Homo sapiens: one gene and its partners. The protein of the gene in region 4 purifies or fractionates together with the protein of the main gene of each other region. This does not show direct contact. Each region holds a gene or a part of one and is shown on either strand. Other genes may lie near its edges.

Region 1 (7,069 bases), on a different chromosome or scaffold from region 4:
GTTCTCCAAGATTGTGGTCCACCTGACAAATGAAATCACGTAGGCACTGCCGAGTCCTCAGGGGCCGGTGTGATGAGAATGGCTACAACTCAATCATTATGCAACTTATCTCAAAGCCTGTCATGGTTGCCACCCAGTCTGACCTCTGATATCCTGGAGCCAAGGTCCTCACCCATCATGTGAATTTGCATGTGAGGGAGGGTGAGGAGGAGACACTGAGGCAGGCAAGGCATTCTGCAAGCTTTTGCAGAGTTTTCATGGACACATTCTGATTCCCACTGTGTCCAGGTGGGAGTTCTGTACACATCACAGATGGAAAAAAGAAACTCTCTGTGGATTTGGCAGCACCCTGGATTGGATGTTTGAAGAAAGCTATTGCATCTGCCCCGTATCTTCTGTGAATCGGGTACCTTTATGCTTCTGGGAGGTCAAGAAGAACCCAGAACCCTCCAGTGACTTCCCTTTGGGTCTTGGCATTATGAGAAGATGGTTAACCTCCTTTATAGAACTCTCCTTCACATCCAATCCTTCAGAAAGCCTAATTGATCCCATCTTCTTAACCCAACCCCTCCCCTGGACATCGTTCCTAAGCCCCTTAAAGAAACAGATGGCGGCTGGGCACGGTGGCTCACGCCTGTAATCCCAGCACTTTTGGGAGGCCAAGGCATGTGAATCATGAGGTCAGGAGTTCGAGACCAGCCTGGCCAATATGGTGAAACCCTGTCTCTACTAAAAATACAAAAATCAGCTGGGCATGGTGGTAATCCCAGCTCCACTGGAGGCTGAGGTAGGAGAATTGCTTGAACCCCGGGAGGCAAAGGTTGCAGTGATCCGAGATCGCACCATTGCACTCTAGTCTGGGTGACAAAGCGAGACTCCGTCTCAAAAAAAAAAAAAAAGAAAAGAAAAGAAAAGATATGGATGGCATATCCTTGTACCTCCAGGGCCTGACACACAGTGCTGGCACCACAGCCCCAGTCCCCCGGGGTTGATGGCATGATTCACTCCCTGACCTGGAGACTGGGGAGGCTTGTCAGCTTATAGGTTTCCACAGCAGGCAATGTGGCCGAATTGCTTCCAGAGAAGTAGGGAGGTGAGTATGACCATTACTTGTGTCTAAAAATCCGACGTGACTAACTTACAAACACATAAGTTACCACAAATGATTTAGGGAGGAGGAAAGAAGTGCAGACAGGCAAGCTTTCAGATCGTTTCAGGAAACCAGGAAGCAGGGAGCACAGCGTTGCAGCCAGCAAGGGAAGACGGAAGCTGTGAGTCCTGGCTCTGAGGGCCTCCCATCCAGTTGGGCTGATGGATGAGACAGGTACAGTCTGTGCTGGGCCATCGTGAGGCTTGCAGAGGGTAGTGCCAGGGTCACACAAGGCGTCATGGCCTCAGAATTCTGAGACCTGGTTTTCCATCTGAACTCATCACCCTTAGTGGGAGACCTAGGGTGCGTTTCTCTTCAATCCTGGGTTTCACCTCTCTAAACAAGGGACAATAGTATCTACCTCAGAGGGTTGTGGCAATGACCAAATGTGTCACAGGTGAAAATGTCCAGTAGTTTCTGGCATTTATGACGTGTTCGGTCAATGTTAGTTCACTATTGTTATCCCATTTACTAAGCGAATGCATGTGACACACCATGCGTTTCTGAACCTCGTATGTGAGAGTGCCTGGCATAGAATTGATGTTCATTAAAGGTTTATTTTTTAAATTTTTAGATAAACTTATTTTGAAATAGTTTTAGACTTGAAGAGTTGCAGAAATACTAGCGAGTTTCCCTGTATCCTACATCCAGCTTCCCCTAATTTTTTTTCCCCCAAGATGGAGTCCTGCTCTGTTGCCCAGGCTGGAGTGCAGTGGCATGATCTCGGTTCACTGCAAACTCCGTCTCCTGGATTCAAGTGATTCTTGTGCCTCAGCCTCCTGAGTAGCTGGGATTACAGGCGCACACCACCATGCCCAACTAATTTCTGTATTTTTAGTAGAGACGGGGGTTTCACCATGCTGGCCAGGCTGGTCTTGAACTCCTAACCTCAGGTGGTCTGTCTGCCTCAGCCTCCCAAAGTGCTGGGATTACAGGTGTGAGCCACTGCACAGGGCCCAGCTTCCCCTAAAAATGTTAACGTCTTACCTAACCATAGTAAGAGGATCAGAACCAGGAAATTGCAGATCTTATGTGAATTTTGCCCGCTCTCCTGCTACTGTCCTTTCCTGTTCCATGTTCCCAACCAGCATCCCATGTTCCATTTAGTTGTTGTATCTATCCCCTTAGGGACGATTCCTAGATTGTGACAGTTTCTCAGTCTTTGTCTTTCAAGACCCAAAGTGTCCAAGGACACTTTTGATGGGTACTGGTTAATCACTTTGTAGAACAGGTCTCAATCTGGGTTTGTCTGGTGTTTTCTTGCGATTGGATTGAGATTACACACTTCTGCAGGAATACCACCACAATATGTTGCTTTTAGTTTTTTCCTCCTTTATTGTGGTAAAATACACTCAACATAACATTTACCATTTAAACCACTTTATTTTATTTTATTATTATTTTTTGAGATGGAGTTTCACTCTTGTTGCCCAGGCTGGAGTGTAATGGTGCGAACTCAGCTCACCACAACCTCCGCCTCCCGGGTTCAAGCAATTCTCCTGCCTCGGCCTCTCGAGTAGCTGGGATTACAGGCATGTGCCACCACGTCCGGCTAATTTTTGTATTTTTAGTAGAGATGGGGTTTCTCCGTGTTGGTCAGGCTGGTCTCGAACTCCCGACCTCAGGTGATCCGCCCACCTCGGCCTCCCAAAGTGCTGGGATTACAGGCGTGAGCCACCGCTCCCGGCCTAAACCACTTTAAAGTGTATGATTCAAGGGCAGTATGTAGATTCATCCTGTTGGATCATTTCTAGACTTTTTCATCATCCTAAAACGAAACCCCAAGCTGCTTATCTTCCTCCCCTAGCACCTGGCAACCTCCAATCTGTGTCGCCTCTACGGATTTGCCAATTCGAGACATTTCATCTGGATGGAATCATACGCTATGTGGCCTTTTTTGTTTGGCTTCTTTCACTAGCATAACGTTTCCCGGGTTCCTCCACACTGCAGCATGCATCGGTGCTCCATTCCTTTTTGTAGCCGAATAATATTCCATTGCATGGACAGATCACATTTTACTTTTATTTTCTAATTCAACAGTGAGACCTGGTGTGGGCCCCGGCGCTGGGCCTGGGAGGCGAGGGAGGGGATGGAAGAGAGCCCCGTGACTGGCAGGAGGCACTGTGGAGTGTGGGGAGAAGGGGTCGGGATCTGCATGCTAGAGAGAATAGGATTTTATTTACACGTGGCAATGTTTATGGAGGCCAATGCACAACTGCCATTATGGGACGCGGACTCCTTTGAAAGTCTCATTTGTGTAAAAGGAAAAGCAGTAGTTCATGAGGAGGGGGAGAAGGGCTCAAGGACAGCAAGGTAAACTACCCCTGGGGCGGGGGAACGTGGTCGTCGGTGGGCCCAGCTTTGGAGGCTAGGCCCGTGAAGGTCGCCCCGTGAGCAGGTCCAGGGCAGGCCGAGTGCCCCGGGGCCCGCATTCATTGCTTACAGAGCAAGGGGAGCCTCCCGGGAGGGAAATCCAACGGTTGGAAACTTCGATTTATCCCAAAGGCGTGCCGAGTGGGAAGGCAACATTTTGATTTCCCAAACGTTGCGGCCAGCGGCTTCTTCCACGGCAGGCGCCTTCAGGTCTCTCCGCAGGGTCGGGACCCCGGGCGGCGCGCGGCCTCTGGGACGCCGAGGGAGGGCGGGCCCACAGCGCCCGGAGCGCGGACAGCGGCCACAGCCCGCCGCCTAGAAGCGGCGCCGCCCGGGGCGGGGGGCGGAGCCGAGCGCGCGCCCCGCCCCGCCCCGCCCCGCCCCGCAGCCCCAGCCCAGCGCGCGCACCAAGGCGGGGCGGCGCGCGGCCCGTGCGCGTGTCCGGGGCCAGGAGGCGGTGGCGGCGAGCGCGGGCCGCGCGTGCGCGCTGCGGCTGGGCGAGGGGCGGCGCGGGCGCGCGTCTGTCAGTGACAGCGGGCGGGGCAGGGGCCGGAGATGGTGGCGGCGGCAGCTCTTCCGACATGAGGCAGCGGCCGCGGGGGACACGGCGGCGGGCGCGGCGGCGGCCGCATCTCTAGCTCGGGGAGGCGGCCCCCGGCGTGGGCGCGGGCGGGCGGGCGTCCCGGCCGGCGTCGCGGGAGCCCGGCTCTGCGGCAGCGTCTGCACCGCCGCCCGGCGAGGGGCCCGCGTCCGTGGTTCCACGCGCTCGGTCCCGGGACAGCTGCGGCCGCGGCGGGAGCGGCGGCGCACTCGGGGGGAAGCAGGCCCCACTAGACGGGCCGCGCCGACGGGCTCCGCGCACTCGCAGCCCGGGGCGCCCCCACCCCCAGCGCCCGCCGCCGCGGGCAGGGCCGGCCCGGAGCGCGGGGGGCGGCCGGGGAGCGCGAGCCGGGGGCGCCCGCCGAAGCTCGCTGCTCCGGGTCGGGGTCCGGGCCCGGGGCCGGCCGCGCGCCGCCTTTGACGCATCGGAGCGCGGCTCCTGCAGGATGGAGGGCTCCGCGCCGCCAGCGGAGTTGTTTGTGCGCAGGCGGCTCGCGGGGCTGGGAGCGCTCAAGGTCTGAACTTCCCTCCGGAGCCGCAGCTGGAGGAGGCGAGCGCGCGAGGAGGAGAAGCCGCGCGGCGCGGAGGCCACCCTCGGGGCGAGAGGCGCGGAAGGCGAGCGAGCAAAGCGGTCCCGGAGCCACGGCGGCCACGCGGCGGGGACCCCCGGGCGTTCTAGGTCCGTCCCGAGCGGTTCTCGTGCGCCTCGAAGGTGGGGGCGGTGGGGGCGGTGGGAGCACCGCTGAGCCGGGAACCACAGGAACAGATGGTGCCTGTCCAGGTCGCGTGCTGGAGCCGCCCCTTAGGACAGGAGCAGGTCCCGGGCCTCTAGGCGTGCATGCCTAGGTGGGAGCGCCGCTAACTCTCCCCGTTTTGCTGGCAGGTACTGGTGACCCCGGCCGGGGCAGGCCCCGGGACTCGACAACATGGCTTCCCCACCCCACCAGCAGCTGCTGCATCACCACAGCACCGAGGTGAGCTGCGACTCCAGCGGGGACAGCAACAGCGTGCGCGTCAAGATCAACCCCAAGCAGCTGTCCTCCAACAGCCACCCCAAGCACTGCAAATACAGCATCTCCTCTAGCTGCAGCAGCTCTGGGGACTCCGGGGGCGTCCCCCGGCGAGTGGGCGGCGGAGGCCGGCTGCGCAGGCAGAAGAAGCTGCCCCAGCTGTTCGAGAGGGCCTCCAGCCGCTGGTGGGACCCCAAGTTCGACTCGGTGAACCTGGAGGAGGCCTGCCTGGAGCGCTGCTTCCCGCAGACCCAGCGCCGGTTCCGGTATGCGCTCTTCTACATCGGCTTCGCCTGCCTTCTGTGGAGCATCTATTTTGCGGTCCACATGAGATCCAGACTGATCGTCATGGTCGCCCCCGCGCTGTGCTTCCTCCTGGTGTGTGTGGGCTTCTTTCTGTTTACCTTCACCAAGCTGTACGCCCGGCATTACGCGTGGACCTCGCTGGCTCTCACCCTGCTGGTGTTCGCCCTGACCCTGGCTGCGCAGTTCCAGGTCTTGACGCCTGTCTCAGGACGCGGCGACAGCTCCAACCTTACGGCCACAGCCCGGCCCACAGATACTTGCTTATCTCAAGTGGGGAGCTTCTCCATGTGCATCGAAGTGCTCTTTTTGCTCTATACCGTCATGCACTTACCTTTGTACCTGAGTTTGTGTCTGGGGGTGGCCTACTCTGTCCTTTTCGAGACCTTTGGCTACCATTTCCGGGATGAAGCCTGCTTCCCCTCGCCCGGAGCCGGGGCCCTGCACTGGGAGCTGCTGAGCAGGGGGCTGCTCCACGGCTGCATCCACGCCATCGGGGTCCACCTGTTCGTCATGTCCCAGGTGAGGTCCAGGAGCACCTTCCTCAAGGTGGGGCAATCCATTATGCACGGGAAGGACCTGGAAGTGGAAAAAGCCCTCAAAGAGAGGATGATTCATTCCGTGATGCCAAGAATCATAGCCGATGACTTAATGAAGCAGGGAGATGAGGAGAGTGAGAATTCTGTCAAGAGGCATGCCACCTCGAGCCCCAAGAACAGGAAGAAAAAGTCTTCCATCCAAAAAGCTCCTATAGCCTTCCGCCCTTTTAAGATGCAGCAGATCGAAGAAGTCAGTATTTTATTTGCAGATATCGTGGGCTTCACCAAGATGAGTGCCAACAAGTCTGCCCACGCCCTGGTGGGTCTCCTGAACGATCTGTTCGGTCGCTTCGACCGCCTGTGTGAGGAGACCAAGTGTGAGAAAATCAGCACCCTGGGAGACTGTTACTACTGCGTGGCGGGCTGTCCCGAGCCCCGGGCCGACCATGCCTACTGCTGCATCGAGATGGGCCTGGGCATGATCAAGGCCATCGAGCAGTTCTGCCAGGAGAAGAAGGAGATGGTGAACATGAGAGTCGGGGTGCACACGGGCACCGTCCTTTGCGGCATCCTGGGCATGAGGAGGTTTAAATTTGACGTGTGGTCCAACGATGTGAACCTGGCCAATCTCATGGAGCAGCTGGGAGTGGCCGGCAAAGTTCACATTTCTGAGGCCACCGCAAAATACTTAGATGACCGGTACGAAATGGAAGATGGGAAAGTTATTGAACGGCTGGGCCAGAGCGTGGTTGCTGACCAGTTGAAAGGTATGTGCACTGCTTTACCTCGGCATCCCCCCTCCCTGATCCTGATTGTATTAAATTAAAAAAAAAAGCTTCCAGCCTCAGTGTCTGCAGACAGCTCAGGTATCTCAGAATGCCTTACCATGGGGGGATCTCAGGGTCAGTGTGACTTTTCTTTCAGCGGGTCAAATATCACAGATCTGTTCACACTGCAGAAAGGGACGCTGTGCAGAGATGACCTAGACGCGACCTTTAGAAGGAAGGAGAACTTTGAACGTGCATAACCACTGGTTGGCTGAAATGTGGGGGCACGTCCGGTGAATGTAAGGGTATGGAGCCCTTCAGCATTCA
Region 2 (7,025 bases), on a different chromosome or scaffold from region 4:
CCTATACAACTTCAGGGAAGTATGTTACCAACAGTGCCTCTCAATTTTTTTTTTTTTTTTTGAGACAGAATCTCACCCAGGCTGGAGTGCAGTGATGCCATCTTGGCTCCCTGCAACTTCTGCCTCCTGAGTTCAAGGGATTCTCATGCCTTAGCCTCCTGAGCAGCTGGGACTACAGGCATACACCCCCAGCTAATTTTTTGTAGTTTTAGTAGAGACCGGATTTCACTGTGTTGGCTAGGCTGGTCTTGAACTCCTGGCCTCAAGTGATCCGTCCACCTCGGCCTCCCAAAGCACTGGGGTTACAGGCATGAGCCACTGTGTCCAGTCAATACTTTTCAATTTTAATTCAAGTTGAAGCTACATGATACCAAAGCTCCCAATGAATTCACGTCAGTGCGGGGAAAAAAAAAATTCAGTCGATTTAAGATAAAAAGATATTCAAGTAGGCAAATAGGTTTTTTACCATTTTTTCCTTTTTGAATGTTCTAACATTGTTTAGTTAATCAACTGATAATCATCATTTATAGGATCCGAGTTTCTTACAGCCTAACAGAAATGTGAAAAGGATATTTATAGCGAAACATTATTTTCCCAACTACAAGAGAAAATCAAATGAAGTAAACAAAATTTATGAAAGTTTGCTGTGCTTAATATGAATTCTCCATTGGTCTGAGAGATGATGCTCTTCTTTCTTTGCACAGAGTGAAAGCTAGGGTAGAATTTGGGCAGGAAATAAAGAATAGAGCAAGATACTGGAACTTGGGGGAAAAATCTAACTCCTCACGGCTGAAGTCTTCGTAATTCTGCATCAGTGCCACAGTCTACCAGAAACCAGGCCCCCTAGTGGATTAAAAGAGTTAAGGACTGAATGCCACATGAGAATGATTTCAACACTGAGGTGTAGGAAATTAAATACAAGAACGATATTTAATTAAAAATCTTATTCAGTCACTCATTTAGCACTTCTTTTTCTTTTTTTCGAAACGGAGTCTCGTTCTGTTACCCAGGCTGGAGTGCAGTGGCACAACCTCGGCTCACTGCAACCTCCACCTCCTGGGTTCAAGCGATTCTCATGCCTCAGCCTCCCGAGTAGCTGGGACTACAGGCACGTGCCATCATGCCTGGCTAATTTTTGTATTTTTAGTAGAGATGAGGTTTCACCATGTTGGTCAGGCTGGTCTTGAACCCCTGACCTCAGGTGATCCACCCACCTCGGCCTCCCAAAGTGCTGGGATTACAGACGTGAGCCACTGCGCCTGGCCCATTTAGCACTTCTTATATACTAGACACTGCTCTGAGCATGTTATAATATGAATTCACCTAATTAGCACAACACCCAAATGAAGAGGGTACTATTATCCAAATATTATAGACCAAGAGGTGTCAAAAGTATAAGTAAATTGCCCAAGGTCATGCCATTGGCCAGGGGCATGGCTGGGACCAGAAGGTGGCTGGCTGGCTCCAAGTCCTTGCTCTTGAACCACCTGCCATCCCAGATTGCTGGGAAGGTCAGTGTGTCAGAAAATTAAACCTAGGAAGAATTTATTCAAATATTCAAATAACTAGCCATGTTCTACTTCTCCAGAGGCTGGCCTTGGGCAATTTTAACCCTCCAGAATATAATTCCAACTGTGGCTGCATTTCCTTAAAACAAAAAACAACAAAGGAAAAGAAAAAAAAAAGGGCTGTTGGGTAACCAAAGTTGTCAGAAAGTCCATGCAATTCACTCCACGGGAGAAACCCTCTATGAGAGCCTCTCATCAACTGATATGCACCTGAACGATCTGCATTACTTGTCTAGATTCGGAAGGTTCAGAAGCCCAGAGAGTTCCAAGGCAAAAGCAACAACAAGCAAGAAGAAACAGAAGAAATGATGATCACTACTGAAGCTAGAGAGAGAAAGTTTCTTAGATACAAACCCTAAAAGTACTCTAGGCCCACAGAAAGTAGGAATGAAGGCCTGACATATACCTCAAATACCTCTGAGCATCTCAAACCACAGGGATAGAAACACAAAGCTTGACAGGCCTCCCTGGGTTTACCAATGACAGGCCTGTGTCCGGTCACACAGAATCACATGAGGACATGCCAGGCTGAGCCCACCACCCAGTAATATTCATCAAAATCTCGTCTGGAAGTGGCATACAAGAAGAACAGCCTGAAGAACATTCAAACAGAAGCCAGAATGGGAGAGGGCTAGGCAGCCGGTGTGCATTATAGCCTTTCTCTGTAGAACAGCATTTACTAAATGTAAACTACACACTGGTGTGGCCTTTGCTAATTGCTGCGGGTGTGATGTTTGACTCGGCGGACTGCATCTTCCTTCATGAACACCTGCCAACCTGAGCAGGGTCCCAGACCTGCCCTCAGTGAGCCTAGCAGGGGTCACCCCGAATAGATCAGTATCAAATAAGCTGTGTGAATGTTGAGACCTTTTATGAGGTTTCTGTGGAATTCTCTGATCATGTAATTAACACTGTTACTCTTCACTGCTGCTGTATTTTTAAAAACCTCTTCTATGTGAGATTTTGCTGAGATGTATATGAGTGGCATGTCCACCTTTAATGGTCAACGTTTGTGTCACCTATACATTTCCTTGTTCTTAATTTGCTTTCGTTTAAATGTAATTTAAAAATGGACAAATTAGCAAAACGGTGCTGCAACTGTGGCTGTATTTATACATGGCCTATACTGATAATTAGCAGCCTATACGGACAATTTTTTTTTAAGTTCTCTAACATTCTTGTATGTTTCTCAGCTTGTGGCAAGGATGTTGTTTTATCAGGTCAGATGTCCCTGTGTCCGCTCTGTGGGGAACTCCTTAGAGTCAACCCTGTTGCATCTTAGTACCAAGACCACTTACATTTCTCCTTGGCAACAGACTCAAAGTATCAAGCATGCTGGTCATCTTGGCATGAATATCTACGCTCATTCCAGGCTCCATTTTGTGCCTTTATCTTTCTGCCTCTTCCTTTTCTTTTTTTCATTTATTCTAGCTTGTATTTCCAACTTCTTTGAAGGCCACCTTAAATCCTTTCTGGAATAAGGTCAAGAGTGAATACATGAATAAATGAATGAATGAATGAAATGCAGGTGCAGAAGCTGAGTTCAGAGATCATCCAAGAGGCAGTTCCTAACAGGTTAGGATCTATGTCTCCTGACTTCTACTTAGTGCCCTTTAAATAATTTATATTAATAATGTGATTCCCAATCATTAAGACCCTACAAATTATATTTAAAATATTCTGTTTATAAAAAGAAAAAGTATAGATGTTGGATAAAGGAGACTTTTCTGAATAAAGAACTCACCAATAAGATAACAATTTTGTAGCAGTGGAACAGAAGGAAGTCTTTATACTGTTAAAGCCCCTGGGAGGTGTCAATAGACTTATTTTGATCCCACACTTATTTTATGTAACACTGGGGATATGTCAAATCCCTATGTTAGGTTACAATAACTAACCCAGAGAAAACATTTCAAATCGTGATTTTTGTAAAGTCAAAGGATGCTAAACTCAAAGTTGTCATCAAGAAGTTGGTACTTCAATTCTGTGTCACATTTTATTAGCATGGTATCATGGCCATTTTTTAGAACAATATGCTCTCATCAGTCATGAGATATCACTTCGCTTTGAATGTTCTGAGACAACTGAAAGAAAGTATAAAGAGAATGCATAAGTATGATATCAATTTCCAGAGGGGAAAAAATGAAAAAGTAGACAGTTTAAAAGGTGAAGAGTTCAAAGCTGCAACCTGTAATTCAATTCATTCAGATAACAGAGCCTCATGTCTTCCCCCTCACAGGTAGCATCCTGGCACTTTAAAATTTCCTGTAGAATAAGAGGCAGTAGCATAAGCAGTGTAGAACAAATTTCAAAAGGAATAGATATTATAAAAGATTTATTAGATATTAAATGAATTTAGAGGCTAATGATTTTAGAAAACAAACTAGAGGCAGTACCAAGTTTCAAGAAACAGAATATAGCTCAAAGATTTTTATAGACTTCACTGCAAGCAAAATGCAATTGATCATATTTGCAAAGATTGGAAGAATAAGCAACTGCCAAGAAAGAATCCATGATATTAGAGCATCATGCATGAACATAAAGTAATGCTTTTAAAGGGATGTTTAAACAGACATCTAGGAGCTCACAAGTCCAGGCCAGTGCTGCCTTCGAAGCAGATACTTAGTAAGTGTGATTGTTTATACTCGAGAATCCTTTTATTAATATATTCAGGACCTGCGGCACTTTATTTTGAATACCCATTGTGACAGCCAATTTTTACCTTTGGGGGATTGGGAGCTATTTAAGTTAAAAACACCGTGTGACTCTGCTATGAATGGAAAGTTTGTGTCCCCCAAAATGCTTACGTTGAAACCCTAATCCCCAAGTGATGGTATTAGGAGGTGGGACCTTTGAGAGCTAATTAGGTCATGAGCTTAGAGCCCTCATTATGTGATCAGTGCCCTTATTAGAAGTGACAGAAGAGTGCTTTTGATCCTATCCCACCCACCATGACCCTGCCAACACACGTGAGGCTACAGTGAGAAGCTGGCTGTCTGCAAACCAGGAAGAACCTGACCATACTGGCACCTTGATCTCAGACTTCAACCTCTAGAACTGTAAGAAATAGATTTCTGTCATTTAAGCTACCCAGTCTACGGTTTTTTATGACAGCTCAAGCTGACTAAGGTCCTAAAAGCAACAATGTGTGTATGTGTTTTAAACACCAGTTGTGAAGATGATTCCTGGGATGTTGCAACAGCAGACATGTTCATACCATATGACTACAATTTCTCCAAGTGACTTAGTTGTTACGTTATTTTTATACCATGGATGTTATCTTGATAATAGCGATGCTATGGCCACCACCACACATTGAGTATCTAGTGTGTGACAGACACTGTGCTAAGCACTTGACATGCAATTTCCTATTTAATCTTTAGAATCCATATTAGGTGTTATTATTATCCCGACTGTATAAACAAAGAAACTGTGGCTTCAAAATCCAGGCAGGGTGTGGAGGCTCACACCTGTAACCTTAGCACTTTGGGAGGCCAAGATGGGAGAACTGCTTGAGCCCAAGAGTTCAAGACCAGCCTGGGCAACATAGCAAAACTCCACCTCTATAAAAACACAACTTAAAAAAATTGGCCAGGCATGGTGGTGCATACCTGTGGTCCCAGCTACTTGGGAGGCTGGGGTGGGAGGACTGCTTGAGCCCAGGAGGTTGAGCATGCAGTGAGCTGTGATCACGCCACTGCACTTCAACCTGGCAACAGAGCAAGACCCTGTCTCTAAAAAACAACCAAGACCAGAAGTCACATGCTTAGTAAGCGACCTGGCTGGGATTTGAGCCCAGGATTGTCCAACGCTGGACTTCATGCTCTTATACTCCATGGTGAAGGAGGCCTCTCACAGCGCGGGCTGGGCCTTGGGAACATGTGCTCTACCAGAGAAGCTTGTGCTGGAATTTACTCCAGGAGAGACAGATTGCTGCTCCCAAGGATGGTCTACTTTACCTCCAGTGATTACAATGGAATTATGCTCGGGGATGAAAAGGGGGCAAGAAGCAGACCAACACCCACCTTCTAAAATCAGAGAGCTTGCTCCGTAGCAGATTGTGAATGGCGTGGGCCCTGCTGGGGCCAGGACAGAAGAACCAGTGACAGCAAAATAGGATTCGGAGGTGTAAATAGATACATACTCAGAGGTCAACACCTAATCTCTGGCACAGGCAAAAACTTCTGCAAAGTTGCCAAATCTTAAGCTGAATGATTTTAAAATCAGAGTAGTGATAACTGAAACTATTACACAAGAGTATTTAGGTTAAAAGTGTTATACAAATAATGAATGACCTTTATAGCACAAGCATGCCTAAAGGTTAACTGCCAGGAATCTGGCCACTGTAATTTTAGAACACAGGGTTAGAGGAGATGTTTATGTGAAATGTGTTCTTCTTGTTCTCTAACTATATATTTAAATCTCTGGCCTTGGTGAGAAATCGCTACGCATGTTAATCTTCTTGGAGTTTCAAATAAAGATCAAGAAAAATTACCTGGTGGTATTTCTTCAGGATGTTGTGCATTTCGGCCACGTCTTCACTGGTAATAGTCTTGATGATGTATCTTTTGTCGTAGGAAGTGTGAAAACGAGCTCCACTGCGGGCCTGGGAGTCGTTGGGGAGGGGTGCGCTCCTGGTCAGGGAATTCTTCCCGGGTGGGGTAAGAGGGGAAGGAAGGCGGGGGAAGATAACTAGTTAAAGGTGTGGCTTTCCGATTCCCAGATAATTTGTCATCATTGCAAGTTTTCAAAAACATTTGTGTGTGGGATAAATTGATAAGTAGGATGACAACATTTTTACATGCATCATAACTCACATTGCAAGCCTTTCAGATGAAATGAAAACAGCTTGAATTGTACTATGATTCTAATATCTTTAAAGCAGGCTAATGTCTAGAATTATAATCAAAGTAACTTTAATCACTTAGTTCTTTTCAGAGTTGGACAAGCTCTCAAAGTTTTCTTCTGAATAAAATTAGGTTCCAGTCATAAAAGAAAATTTTACAGTCACTGAGCATTTCCTTATATGACAGGTATCGTGCCAAGCATTTTGCACAGATTATTTCCCCCAATTCTGATAACATTCCCATGCAATGGTTACGATTGCTATCATCACTATTTTACAGATGAGGAGATGGGAATAAGAGAGGCTTAGTATCTGGGCAAAGGGCATATAGCTAATAAGGGAAGAGCTAGAATTCTGACTCCAGTGTGGCTGGCTCAGAATCCAAACTCTCAACTAGTAAACTACTCAACTAGTAAAGTACTTAACTTGCAGACTATGCTACCTGTGTGCCCCAGGAGGAGGAGGCAGGAGCCTGGGAGAGTGTCTTCTAAAACAGCTCCTCCTTAGGCGATTTGAATTTGGTCCATCCTCCACTCCCTACCACCATTTTTGAGAACTACTGATCTCCTGGAGGGTGGACAAGGACGGGCTCTGAGTAGGGGCTCTGCTGA
Region 3 (7,025 bases), on a different chromosome or scaffold from region 4:
TTAGGTTTTTACCACCAGCAGGCAAGCTCCTGCTGTGCCTGGCCAGCTTTTAGGCACAGGCAGGTGTCAGACAGGTTCGTCTGGACCGTGGACTTGGCAGCTGGCTCCCTTGGACATTGTGGAACGTGGAAGAGAAGCTGGAAGATTTGGGCTTTGGTCCAGAGTCCACCACTTGTTTATTGACCATAAGAAAGTTTCCGTTCCTCTTACCCTGAGTTTCTTCAGCTGGAAAATGGGAGCCATGATTTTCCCACCTAGCAGAGGGCCTTAGACAGTGAAGTGAGCTGACTAGGAAGTCCTTCCCCTGGACCTGGCTAAAAGTTCATCCACTCCATGTGGTCTCTCCCTTTCCTGAGTAGGGCTTGGTCTCCCCGTCTCGAAAGTGAAGCTAAACCTCTCAGGCTGGTGTGACACAGCATTAGAGATAAAAACCTTGTGTAACTGAAGTGCTGGACATATTTAAGGTGTGACTGTTGAGCTGTTAGCAGTCCTGCGTCCCCTGACCTGCACCGATGGGTGGCGTGGGATGTTGAAGAGCAGTTCAGCAGCAGTGGCCACCCCGCTGGGAGAAGGGGCTCCTGCCCATGACCAGGGCCCCTTGCCTTTCCCCACAGATCCTGGCTGCAGCTCTGACCGAATGTCACCGGAAATCCAGTGCCCAAGGCAAGCCTCTGGCCCTGAAGGTCTTTGTGGCTGGCAGAAACCGTCTGGAGAATGATGGCGCCACTGCCTTGGCAGAAGCTTTTAGGGTGAGTGGTTTCTGTCCATCCTGCCCCTGCAGCCTTGAGGTGCACTCGGCATAGTAGGCTGACAGTTCTGGATGCTAATCCCAGGGCTGGCACTCAACCAAGAGACCTGGGGCGTCACGTGCCCTCTCCAAGCCTGTTAACCCATCCGAAAATGAGCCAGAATTCCTGTCGTGCATTTCTGGAAAGGTGTGTGACTTTCCGGAAAGGTGTGTGACTGGCTCCCACTGGTGAGCCAGCCCCTATGGGGCTTCAGGCCAGGCAGGCCACTCTGACCAAGGAGTGTCATCTGCCAGGCTCAGAAGTGGTGAAGTGAGATGGTGCGAGTGCTGACAGTAGCCTGGCCCAGCCACTGGTGTGGGGCACAGAGAAGGAACATACCAGACCTCCAAGACAGGGAGATAGGCAGGGGCAGCCGCAGGGCTCAGGTGCCAAATGACGTGCTCTCAGGTGACCTTATCCCCACTCCTCTTCCACTCTCCTCTCCCCATCCCCGCAGGACATTGCTGAGTCCCCGATCGTGAGTGCCAGCAGAAGGCTACACTTGCCCCTAACAGGACTGAAAACTTTGGGGTCTGTCTCCCTCCTCTCTTTCCTGTTTTTTTTGAGGCAGAGTCTCATTCTGTCACCCATGCTGGAGTGCAGTGCGTGATCTTGGCTCACTGCAGTCTCCGCCTCCCAGGTTCAAGCAGTTCTGCCTCAGCCTCCCGAGTAGCTGGAATTACGGGCACCCGCCACCACACCCGGCTAATTTTTGTATTTTTATTAGAGACGGGGTTTTACCATGTTGGCCAGGTGGTCTCGAACTCCTGACCTCAAGTGATCTGCCCGCCTGGGCCTCCCAAAGTGCTGGGATTACAGGCGTGAGCCACCACGTCCGGCCCCTCTTCTCTTAATTTAAATGTTTTCTTCAGCAAACAGTATCCTAGGAGCATTGCTCATACGGGCCGGAATGTCCTGGCTGCCCATCGAGGCTGTCTGTAGATACCCTTTGCCTGCTTCAGTGCCAAGTGAACATCGCAGAGATCTGCCTTGTGTCTCCCTGCACCCCTGGCTGCAGGGGAGCTCCTGCTGCCTCCTCTGGAGCTGGTGGGGGCCTCACTGCCATCCTTGGATCCCTCCCTGCCGTCAGCCTGCTGTCCTCAGTGCACTGGGAGGAGGGGGTGCGCTGTGGTTGTGTTGAGCCTTCATAGGTGTCCTCTGGTGGGCTTAGAATGGGGGTTCTTAATCCCCCCCAGTATGTGGATAGAATTCAGGGGTCTGTGAACATGGATGAGGAAAAAATAACATTATTATTTATTACTAATGTAGCTAAAATATGTAGTGTGACCTTTGATTATAAATGTAGACAATAAACCTCACAGCATTAGAAAGGCCTGTGACTACCCACATAACAAACAAGCACATGTAGTCCCTGAACCCAAAAAAAAAAAAAATTTTATTGAGGCAGGGTCTCGCTCTGTTGCCCAGGCTGGAGTACAACGGTGCAATCTCAGCCCACTGCAGTTGAAGCTTCCCAGGCTCAAGTGATCCTCCCACCTCAGCCTCCCGATTAGCTGGGACTACAGGTGTGCACCACCATGCCCACCCAGTTAATTTTTGTATTTTAGTAGAGATGGGGTTTCACCATGTTAGCCAGGCTGGTCTCAAACTCCTGACCTCAGGTAATCCACTCGCCTTGGCCTCCTAAAGTGCTGGGATTATAGGCATAAGCCACTGCGCCCAGCTTAAAATTTTTAAAAAAATAAAAAGAAAATCTTGTGACTTTATCCCCAGTGGAAATCACAGGTATTTCATATGAAGTTATAGTTACTGCTGATATATAGAAATATTTCTCACTACATCAAAATTACAGTAATAGTGGACCCACCCCTAGATCTTGTTATTTGGTGCATTAACAAGAAGTTTGTATATCACTACAGCATGCGTTTGGAGTTTTTTCCTAAATGTTTTGATAACTGTTCCAACTGAGTTGATTTCCTTTGTAATTCTGTGTAATTTATCTTAAAATTTTAAAAAAACATTTTTTGAGGAGGGGACCCAGGGGCTTCACCAGACTGCCTGAAGGGTTCATGGCACAGAAAATACTAAGAAGGCCTGACCTGGAGTGTGCCCAGGTTGGCCTTCCTGTATTTATTTGTGGACCACCCGCTCCCCCCATTGCCCTGTGCTGCACTGAGCACCTGAAGACAGCAGAAGATTCCTTGGCACAGTTAAGCCAGGCCAACCCTCAGTCCTGGGTCACAGTGGAGACTGGGACATGGCCCTCTCCTCCAAAGCTCAGGGGCCGATGGGATGCAGACGGAATATAGGCTTTGAATGTAGGCAGGATGAGGACCACCGTGATAGAGGAGGGACCAGGTGCTCCGGGAGCACAGAGGAACGCACACTGGATCGTGGCTGGGGGAATCCAGGAAGCCTTCCTGGGAGAGGAGGTGACCAAAACAAGAGCCCTAGAACTCATATGAGTTAGCCTGTCAAGAAAATGCTGAATGGCTGGGTGTGGTATCTCACGTCTGTAATCCCAGCACTTTGAGAGGCCGAGGAAGCTGGATCGCCTGAGGTCAGGAGTTCAAGACCAGCCTGGCCAACATGGTGAAACCTCCATCTCTACTAAAAATACAAAATTAGTCGGGTGTGGTGGCGCACGCCTGTAATCTCAGCTACTCAGGAGGCTGAGGCAGGAGAATCACTTGAACCTGGGAGGCAGAGGTTGCGATGAGCCAAGATCATGCCATCACACTCCAGCCTGGGCGACGGAACGAGACTCCGTCTCAAAAAAGGAAAAAAAAAGAAAAAAGAAAAAGAAAATAAGGAGGCAGAGAGAATGGGTATCAAAAGGCCAGGCTGTGATAGGGCTGCATGGGCCAGGGAACACCCTCCTCATCCCTAGAGAAGGACGCCATGTCGAAGGGGTTATGTTGTGTAGGTGGGTGGGCTAGGAGGGCCCCTAAGAAAGAAAGGTCACATGGAGCTATGTCATCCAGAGAAGGGGCATGAGTGCCTGCCCACCACAGCCAGGGTCCCCACTGTGCTGAGGACACCAGACTGAGAACAAGAAATCGACCTGCTGGATCTAGAGCTCTGTGACCCTGGGCAAGTCACTTCGCCTCTTTGATCCCTAGTCTTTTCTCTGGTGGGGATCCTATCCCAGGCAGTAGGCCTCCCTCAGGAGGTTGTGGAAAGAGTTAGATGCAGCCATGCCCCAAAATCCCACAGACAGGCCCCTGCCCTGTGCTGGCGGCAGCCCATTCCTGTGCCTGCTGTGTGGAATTGCTCTCCTGCCTGCTGGATGTCACCTGGCACTCGGGGCCCCCTCCACTCTCTGCCTCCTCTTCACAGGTCATCGGGACCCTGGAGGAGGTCCACATGCCACAGAATGGGATCAACCACCCTGGCATCACTGCCCTGGCCCAGGCTTTCGCTGTCAACCCCCTGCTGCGGGTCATCAACCTGAATGACAACACCTTCACTGAGAAGGGCGCCGTGGCCATGGCCGAGGTGAGGCGAGTGTGGCAGAGCCAGTTGGGCCCCGCCAGATAGAGGCTGGCTGCTGTCTTTCCAGGGAAGCTGGGGCTCCGTTTAGCAGGGACTCCTCTACCCCCTGCCTGCCCCCTGGGTGTGTGCCCCATGGCTCCAGCTCTTTGAACATGTCCTGAACAGGGTTGCAGGTCCCAAGGTAACCCACGCCCTCCTCGGGCAGCTCTGATTCTTCATGCCACCTTCTCCTGAGCCGCCTCTGCAGCCCCCAGCGGCTGCCGCTGGTTTGTTCTCAGGCTGCACAGGAGCAGACTGCTCCCCACATCTGTTTTCCTGGTTGATTTGTTCAGCAGCTGTTGTTTGTTTTGTTATTTATTATCACTTTTTGAGACGGAATCTTACTGTTGCCCAAGCTGGTCTTGAACTTCTGGGATCAAGTGATCCTCCCACCTCAGCCTTCTGAGTAGCTGGGATTACAGGTGCAGGCCACTGTGCCTGGCCCAGCAGCTGTTTTTTGAGTCCCCATTTAGTGCTTGGCTTTGTACCAAGTGCAGGCCACATGGGGTTGAGCCAAAGACCCCGCCTTCAGGGAGACCCTAGCTCAAGGAGGGAAGGAAGCTGCCAGTGGTAACAGTGCTGGGCTCTGAACGCAGTGGCTTCTTGGCTGCCAGGGTCCCGTGGCCCCACAGAAGGCTAGTCCGGCTGCCTGTGTGTTAGCAGAGATGTGTGCAGGTGTTGGGGAACACGCCAGAAGGAAGTTCAAATCAGACTTAGGGCAGGCTTCCTGGAAGAGATCACATTTTGGCTAAGTTGTATAGGGCAAGTGGTCTTTCTCTGGACAGAGGGTGGGGGATGGGTGTTTCAGGCAGAGGGATCAGCTTACGTGTGGAAGACCCGGATGCTCAGCAGGAACCTTGCTTGGTTGGTCTCAGGAAGAGTTCTGGCCGTAACATGGGGAGGGGTGGAGGAGGTTTGGCCAGGGGCCCAGAGGCCAACAAGTAGAAGACGGCAAAGCTGGTGACTTGCAGAGGAGGACAGTGTGTGGTGGCTGGCTTGGGATGTGACCGTGTGGGGCCCCCGGGGCTTGCTGAGGGCTGGGGTGTGGTCTGCACCCTCACTCTGGACCCTTGCTTCCCCCTCACAGACCTTGAAGACCTTGCGGCAGGTGGAGGTGATTAATTTTGGGGACTGCCTGGTGCGCTCCAAGGGTGCAGTTGCCATTGCAGATGCCATCCGCGGCGGCCTGCCCAAGCTAAAGGTGCCAGCCTGGACGCCTGACGTCCTCCCTCTGGGGTCTGTGGGTGGTGGGGCGGCTGGGGGCACAGGGGTCTGGTCTGAAGGCAGGTGGGCCTGTGTCCATATCCCAGCTCCTCCACTTCGGGCCCTGTGATGCTGTGTGAGCCTCCACACCCCTCTGAGCCATGGTTTCTTCATTTCTAAAGCGGGAGGCAGGGAGTGGTGTACATCACTGTCTTGTGATTTAAGTAAACACAGTACGTGACTCATCGTTGGCTGCAGGGCATTATTTTTGTTGTTGGTGTTATTCTTCCTGCCCACTTTGCCCCACCTGGAGGACAGAGCCTGCCATATCCTCACTTGGGGAAACTGAGGCTTAGAGTAGAACCTGGTGTCCTGGCCCGGGTTTCTGCCTGCCTCCAACCCTTCCTCTTATTTTCAGGAGCTGAACTTGTCATTCTGTGAAATCAAGAGGGATGCTGCCCTGGCTGTTGCTGAGGCCATGGCAGACAAAGCTGAGCTGGAGAAGCTGGACCTGAATGGTAGTCGGATGGGGGAGGCCTCTGCACAGGTCTGCTAGGCTGGCCCTGGCACCCCGGCTGACTGCTCTTCCCTCCCCTTGAGCAGGCAACACCCTGGGAGAAGAAGGCTGTGAACAGCTTCAGGAGGTGCTGGAGGGCTTCAACATGGCCAAGGTGCTGGCGTCCCTCAGGTAGGGAACTCGGGGTGGCCCCAGAGGTCGGGGTCAGGCCATTCCTTTCTTTCTTTCTTTTGTTCTTGAGATGGAGTCTTGCTCTGTTCCCCAGGCTAAAGTACAGTGGCGTGATCTCGGCTCACTGCAGCTTCCACCTCCTGGGTTCAAGTGATTCCCCTGCCTCAGCCTCCCAAGTAGCTGGGATTACAGGCACCCACCACCACACCTGGCCCCTTTATTTGTTTCTACTTGTATTTATTCAGAAACGTTGGGTGCACTCCTGTTACGTACTAGGTCATACACTAGGCATCAGGGCTATAAGGATGGGACAGTCAGGGCTTCTGTCTCGTGGGGTGGAGACAGAATGAGTTGTCCGTTCAACAGAGGAGCTCGTACGGGCTGAGCGGGGCCACCCTGTAGAGTGGTGGAGTTGGGGAGGCCTCTGAAGGGGTGAGGCCAGATCTCATCCTGATGTGGTGGGGCCTGGGGAGTGATGGGGGTGGGAGGTGGGGGCAGCCAGAAGGGGCTGCACTCGGGATTGTTCTTAAGACGCTGACTCTAGAAAGGAAGAGACCATGGGGCCTGGGGAGTCTACCTGGAGGTGAAGGTGGGTGGCCGGGGAGTGGCCATCTCCTGGATCCAAGTCCGGTTGGGCCATCAGCATCGGGCTCCCTGTGCCCCTCGCATCTCCAAGTCGGCCTCATTCGTGTGTCAGATACTCAGTCGTGTCTCCTCGGTGCTAGGCCCTGAGCTGAGGCTAGGAACTGGGGACTCCGAGGTGGGCTGAACCTCACAGGTCCCACTGTCCCTGGGAAATGGTCCAGCCTTCCTATGGGGCAAGGACACCCCTACTCTTCTTCCTCCCCCAC
Region 4 (7,025 bases):
AGGTGGGCAGATCACAAGGTCAAGATTGAGACTATCCTGGCCAACATAGTGAAACGCCATCTCTACTATAAAAATGCAAAAATTAGCTGGGCATGGTGGCATGTACCTGTAACCCCAGCTACTCAGGAGGCTGAGGCAGGAGAATCGCTTAAACCCAGGAGGCAGAGGTTGCGGTGAGCTGAGATAGCACCACTGCACTCCAGCCTGGTGACAGAGCAAGACTCCATCTCAAAAAAAAAAGATTGTGGTCCAGTAACTTGGTTTCCCAAACTGAAAGCATCACCTTGACTATCTATAATAGACAACTTCAGGACCTAGTAACATTCCATATTTATTATGCAAGGTGACAAAACATGCTATGAATTACATCTTAAAATAAGACTAAGACCTCCAGAGCAATCTGAAAGCCACTGAGAAATAGTCTGAAATGGGCTGGGTGAGGTGGCTCACGCCTATAATCCTAGCACTTTGTGGGGCTGAGGTGGGCAAATCACCTGAGGTCAGGAGTTTGAGACCACCCTGGCCAACATGGTGAAACCACATCTCTATTAAAAATACAAAAATTAGCCAGGCATAGTGGCGCCCACCCGTAGTCCCAACTATTCGGGAGGCTGAGGCAGAAGAATCACTTGAACCCGGGAGGTGGAGGCTGCAGTGAGCCGAGATCACGCCATTGTGCTCCAGCCTGGGTGACAGAGAGAGACTCTGTCTCAAAAAAAAAATCTGAACCCAGGAGACCTCAATGAGCATACGGTATAAAAGCGATACAATTTGTGGCGGGGCGCAGTGGCTCATGTCTGTAATCCCAGCACTTTGTAATCCAAGCACTTTGGGAGCTCCTCAGCACTTTATGAACTCCTGACATTTGAGGTCAGGAGTTCAAGACCAGCCTGGTCAACATGGGGAACCCTACTAAAAATATAAAAATTAGCTGAATGTGGTGGCGCATGCCTGTAATCCCAGCTACTCAGGAGGCTGAGGCAGAAGAATCGTTTGAACCCGGGAGGTGGAGGTTGCAGTGAGCCGAGATCACGCCACTGCACTCCAGCCTGGGCGACAGAGCGAGACTCCATCTCAAAAAAACAGTGATAGAATTTGCACCACCTTGTGGTAACAGGAACACATGACATTTTACTAGACATTTTATATAAAATGACTAGAATAAAAATATAAAAATTCCTATAGAAAGTAAAAAAAAAAAAATAGACTCGGGAAGGAACAAAAGTGGAAGTACAATACAATGACTTTTCATTAACAAAGAAGCTCCCAGGTCAACACCTCTGTATCCTCTTGCTGCAACTGCATCCCACAATGTACCTGTCAATATTAAGTTACATTGCCTTTCAGTCACCTGCAGGTGATGTACAGCCACTGAATAGGGTGTTCCAGGTTCTTAGTACAAAGAGCAATGATGATAATGGCAAGGGCAATATGTGGTATCTGGATGCCAGAATACATGAAACACAGGCCCATCAGCTGCAAGGTCCAGGTCAGCAGGTTGATACTTCGTTCATTCTCCAAGGGCCCATACTTGTAACATACTGCAAAACTCATGAATCCAACTGTGAGGACATAACCTATGAGAAGAGTTATCAGAAGACATTCTTTTTCATCTATACTTGGTAAAAATAATTTGTGTGGGAAGCAGTAGTTAATTTACTATATAGCACCAATTGAACTAGGAAATCAGATTTTTACTTAATTTTTCACACTTTTTTCTTAGAATATATTTCTCTAAGTTTCTATCCTTTCTGCTGTCCCAAATTTATTTGGTTCAAACAGAACATTAAAGGTACATGTTGAACAACCCTGAAATAGACTATTTTAAAAAACCAATATACAGAAATCCAGATTAATCACCCTTCAAAGGATAACTCAAAGGTTACTATCTATATGACCAAGGATTTTTACTTTGTAAATAAAATCTACAGCAGTTCATTCAGAAATGAAGGAGAAAAAAATTAACTGCGGAGTCTTTTACTTAAGGTCCCCAAGTATATTTAAAATATGATTCCATTAATAAAGTCAACTTACAGCTTTTCAGAAAGATGTTTATTGTGTAAAGAAAGGTATATTTATAAATACCAATAAATGAACATCTTCGCCTTAACAGCACCATTCTAATTTAAGAGAAGGTGATAATTGTAGAGGGATTAGAAATAAGTGAAAAACTATGATTTTTAAAAGTTTAAAAAAATGACATGAACTATTAAATCCCATAAGCAGGCAAAATCTTTTCATGATCAAATTAACTGAAACAGCCTATAAACGTACAAAAGGAAAGCAAAACCGACAACACTTACTTAAAAGATACTGCCAGTAACACCTCCAGATCTCTTGTAAATTTTTAAAAACTAGTTGAATGAGGTACAGAGAAAAAGACCAGCCTCCCACCAGGATGACGTAAATGGGACTTTTCTAAGACAGAGAGTAGAAGTGAAAGCAAAAAGTTACAACAGGCTTTCCATACATAAAAGAAGCAAAATGGAACTATGATTTTTTTTTTAAAAAATTCAACCTACTCAAAATGCACAAAAAACACTTCTCTTAAAAAGATGTCCTTTATACTTAAAATGGTACAGTCTGCAACGAACACTGGGAAGATGAAATGCTAAATAACTTAAAAGCCTGGCTATATAATTAAAAAACAGGAAGCAGACTTTAATCCCCCTCTGAGCACAGGATTTTATATAAAAAGAAAGAATTTGTAATCAGGCTCCAAGTTTCATCGTGGAAAGTACCTTTCTGAATCAAGGAGAGTAGGATATTGACTCATCAGCCATCAATACACATTTTCAGTTTTCTAAGATTACCCAGGAAAACAGTCCTTCAGCTATCCAAATTCATTCTAGCTGCACATGAAGATTCTGATACTTACCTTAGGCATAAACTTAGATAGTATAAAAATGATGATTAGCAGAGAGGCCACAATTCCCACAGTCATCCCAGTAGAGTAGTAGAAAATTTGACTTCTGCAGGAAAAAAATGTATTTCATGACCATATGTATATATTTCATACATAGCACTGTTGAAACTAGGACAACTAACCCAGCCGAAAGATTTTAAAAGGTACAAGATTAGAGCAGTACAAGCATCAGAGACATTTCAAATTTGGTTCCAGACCACTGCAATAAACCAAATATTGCAATTGCAGTAAGTAAGTCACACAAATTTTTTGGTTTCCCACTGCATATAAAAATTGTTTACACTATATTATAGTATATTAAGTGTACAACAGCATTATGTCTTAAAAATATATATTCCTTAATTAAAAATACTTTGCTAAAACCTGCTAAAGATCATCTACGCCTTCAGTGAGTCATCATTTTTTTTGCTGGTGGAGGGTCTCACTTCCATGTTGATGGCTGTTGACTGATGAAGGCAGTGGTTTCTGAAGGCTGGAGTGGCTGTGGCAATTTCTTAAAATATAATGAAGTTTGCTGCATTGACTCATCCTTTCAATGAAGATTTCTCTAAAGCATGCAATACTGTCTGATAGCATTTTACCACAACTTCTTTCAAAACTGGAGTCAATCCTCCAACAGCATTAACCCTTAACAAGAGGATCACCCCTCCTTTGAAGCTAGGCACTGACTTCTCTCTCGCTATCAAAGTCCTCAATGGCATCTTCTTCTAGTATAAGGCTATTTTGTCTACACTGAGGAGCTCTTTAATTGTAGCCACTTTCAACAATGATGTTAGCTAGATCTTCTGAATAACTTGCTACAGCTTCTATATCAGTGCTTGGTTCATCTTTTTTTTTTTTTTTTTTGAGACAAAGTCTCACTCTGTTGCCCAAGCTGGGGTGCGATGGCGTCATCATGGCTCACTGCAGCCTTGATCTACTGGGCCCAGGTGATTCTCCCACCTCAGCCTCCCGAGTAGCTGGTACCATGACTTTTTTGTATTTTTTGTAAAGGCAGGGTTTCACCATGTTGCTCAGGCTGGTCTCGAACTCCCTGGGCTCAAGTGATCTGCCCGCCTCAGCCTCCCAAAGTGCTGGGACTACAGGCCTGAGCCACCACGCCTAGCCTACCTTGCACTTATGTAATAAGACAGCTTCTTTCCTTAAATCTCATGAACCAAGAACCTTCACTAGCTGTAAACTTTTCTTCTGAGGCTTCCTCACCTCTCACCCTTCACAGAATTGAAGACAGTTAGGGTCTTGCTCTGGATCAGCCTTTAGCTTTAAAAAAGTTGTATCTGGCCGGGCATGGTGGCTCAAGCCTGTAATCCCAGCACTTTGGGAGGCTGAGATGGGAGGATCACGAGGTCCGGAGATCGAGACCATCCTGGTTAACACGGTGAAACCCTGTCTCTACTAAAAATACAAAAAAATTAGCTGGGTGTGGTGGCAGGCGCCTATAGTCCCAGCTACTAGGGAGGCTGAGGCAGGAGAATGGCATGAACCTGGGAGGCGGAGCTTGCAGTGAGCCGAGATCACGCCACTGCACTCCAGCCTGGGCAAGAGAGCAAGACTCTGTCTCAAAAAAACAAACAAACAAACAAAAAAAGAGTTGTATCTGGTTTAATCTTCTCAACAGCCAACTAAAACTCTCTCCATATCAGCAATAAGGCTGTTTCACTTTCTTATCACTTGTGTGTTCCCTGGAGTAGCACTTTTAATTTCCTTCAAGAACTTTCCCTTTGCACTCACAACTTGGCTAACTGCTCAGGACAAGAGGTCTAGCTTTCGGTCTGTCTTGGCTTTTGCTGTTCTCACTAAGCATAATCAGAGAGATGTATGACTCTTCCTTTCAGTTGAAGACTCACAATCTACTCTAGGGTTATTAATTGGCCTAGTTTCAATATTGCTGTTTCTCAGGGAATAGGGAGGCCCAAGAAGAAGGGAGACGGGAATAACCAATTGGTTGAGTTGTTAGAACACCCATGACATTTATCGATGAAGTTCACTGTCTAATATGGTTTGGCTGTGTCCCCACCCAAATCTCATCTTGAATTGTAGCTCCCATCATTCCCACGTGTTGTAGGAGGGAACTGGTGGGAGATAATTGAATCATGGGGGCAGTTGCCCTCATACTGTTCTCATGGTAGTGAATAAGTCTCATGAGATCTGATGGTTTTATAAGGGGTTTCCACTTTCACTTGGTTCTCATTCTCTCTTGCCTGCTGCCATGTAAGATGTGCCTTTTGCATTCTGCCATGATTATGAGGCCTCCCCAGCCACCAGGAACTGTGAGTCCATTAAACTTCTTTTTCTTTATAAATTATCCAGTCTTGGGTATCTTTATCAACAGTATGAAAATGAACTAATAGGCTGGGCGCAGTGGCTCACGCCTGTAATCCCAGCACTTTGGGAGGCTGAGGCAGGCAGATCATGAGGTCAGGAGATCGAGACCATCCTGGCTAACACGGTGAAACCCGTCTCTACTAAAAATACAAAAAATTAGCTGCACGTGGTGGCAGGTGCCTGTAGTCCCAGCTACTCGGGAGGCTGAGGCAGGAGAATGGCATGAACCCGGAAGGTGGAGCTTGCAGTGAGCCGAGATCGCGTCACTACACTCCAGCCTGGGCGACAGAGCGAGACTCTGTCTCAAAAAAAAAAAAAAGAAAATGAACTAATATACTGTCTTACATGGACATGTGGTGCCCCAAAATAATTGCAACAGCAGCATCAAAGATCACTGATTATGGATCACCATAACAGTTATAATCATATGAAAAAGTTTGAAATATTATAATTACTAAAATGTGACACACAGACCCCAAGTGAGCACATGCTGTTGGGAAAACGGTGTGATAGATTTGCTTGACCCAGGGTTGCCACGAACCTTCAATTTGGAAAGAAATGCACTATCTGTGAACCACAAAAAAGTGAAGTACAATAAAGTGATGTGTGACTATATTTGCCCAAAACTTGAGGTCAGAGAACTGTAGAGACTGATGCTATGTAGTTACTGCCAGATTATGAAGATTAGGATTAAAGGTCTTCCCTCATGTATTTCCCAATAATCAGCCTTTACGTAATGTCCTATTCACATCCCCATCATCTCTCCCGACCTGAATATTATTATTTTGTCACCCAGGCTGGAGTGCAGTGGTGCAATCACGGATCACTGCAGCCTCAACCTCCTGGGCTCAAGTGATCCTCCTACCTCAGACTCCCAAGTAGCTGGGACTACTGGCATGCACAACCATGCCTGGCTAATTTTTGTATTTTTTTGTAGAGGCAGGGTCTCACTATGTTACCTAGGCTGGTCTCAAACTCTTGGGCTCAAGTTATCCTCCCCCTTCAGCCTCCCAAAGTGCTAGGATTACAGGGGTGAGCCACCACAACCAGCCCCCCATTCCAGATTTTTTCTACCAGTTATTCCTCCCTGTTTCTCTCAGCATCACCAAAATAACAACTTCCAGCAACCCCACTCCAGCCCAACTTCAAACTCCAATTGTTAATCTTGCATTCACTACTCCACAAATACTTTTTACTTGTATACAAACTTAATGTTGATTTTACCTTCATTCAATGTTTATTTAGTTACCTATATATTTTCTTCATATTTGTACATGTCAGTCTCACCTGTCTTAACTAGTAGGTTCCTAAAGGAAAAAATGAATAAACACTTGATTTTTTTTTTTTTTTTTAAACAGGGTCTCCCTCTGTGGCCCAGGTTGAAGTACAGTGGTGTGATCTTGGCTCACCGCAACCTCCGCCTCCAGGCTCAAGCGGTTCTCGTGCCTTAGCCTCTCGAGTAACTGGGATCACAGGCACATACCACCACGTCCAGCTAATTTTTGTATAGACAGGGTTTTGCCATGTTGCCCAGGCTGAGCTGTGATATTTGTTTCCTTTTTTTTGAGATGGAGTCTTGCTCTGTTGCCCAGGCTGGAGCACAGTGGCACGATCTCGGCTCACTGCAAGCTCCACCTCCTGGGTTCACGCCATTCTCCTGCCTCAGCCTCACAAGTAGCTGGGACTACAGGCGCCCGCCACCACGCCTGGCTAATTTTTTTGCATTTTCAGTAGAGATGGGGTTTCACCGTGTTAGCCAGGATGGTCTCGATCT

Evidence for each region.
Region 1: the proteins of NEMP1 (region 4) and ADCY9 purify together in Homo sapiens (co-immunoprecipitation; 3 studies listed by BioGRID and IntAct, with this or other methods). This does not show direct contact.
Region 2: the proteins of NEMP1 (region 4) and PIP4K2A purify together in Homo sapiens (affinity purification with mass spectrometry; 2 studies listed by BioGRID and IntAct, with this or other methods). This does not show direct contact.
Region 3: the proteins of NEMP1 (region 4) and RANGAP1 purify together in Homo sapiens (co-immunoprecipitation; 3 studies listed by BioGRID and IntAct, with this or other methods). This does not show direct contact.

Annotation. Positions count from the first base shown.
Region 1 is NC_000016.10:4,113,423-4,120,491, reverse strand, and holds the start of ADCY9 (adenylate cyclase type 9), read left to right. Parts: upstream 1-4,049; 5' UTR 4,050-4,802; intron 4,803-5,006; 5' UTR 5,007-5,049; coding exon 5,050-6,742; intron 6,743-7,069. UniProt on the Homo sapiens protein: Adenylyl cyclase that catalyzes the formation of the signaling molecule cAMP in response to activation of G protein-coupled receptors.
Region 2 is NC_000010.11:22,585,566-22,592,590, forward strand, and holds part of PIP4K2A (phosphatidylinositol 5-phosphate 4-kinase type-2 alpha), read right to left. Parts: intron 6,217-7,025; coding exon 6,064-6,216; intron 1-6,063. UniProt on the Homo sapiens protein: Catalyzes the phosphorylation of phosphatidylinositol 5-phosphate (PtdIns5P) on the fourth hydroxyl of the myo-inositol ring, to form phosphatidylinositol 4,5-bisphosphate (PtdIns(4,5)P2). Has both ATP- and GTP-dependent kinase activities.
Region 3 is NC_000022.11:41,255,170-41,262,194, reverse strand, and holds part of RANGAP1 (ran GTPase-activating protein 1), read left to right. Parts: intron 1-614; coding exon 615-749; intron 750-4,088; coding exon 4,089-4,247; intron 4,248-5,370; coding exon 5,371-5,484; intron 5,485-5,904; coding exon 5,905-6,004; intron 6,005-6,089; coding exon 6,090-6,174; intron 6,175-7,025. UniProt on the Homo sapiens protein: GTPase activator for RAN. Converts cytoplasmic GTP-bound RAN to GDP-bound RAN, which is essential for RAN-mediated nuclear import and export. Mediates dissociation of cargo from nuclear export complexes containing XPO1, RAN and RANBP2 after nuclear export.
Region 4 is NC_000012.12:57,061,768-57,068,792, forward strand, and holds part of NEMP1 (nuclear envelope integral membrane protein 1 isoform a precursor), read right to left. Parts: intron 2,973-7,025; coding exon 2,879-2,972; intron 2,419-2,878; coding exon 2,304-2,418; intron 1,578-2,303; coding exon 1,352-1,577; intron 1-1,351. UniProt on the Homo sapiens protein: Together with EMD, contributes to nuclear envelope stiffness in germ cells. Required for female fertility. Essential for normal erythropoiesis. Required for efficient nuclear envelope opening and enucleation during the late stages of erythroblast maturation.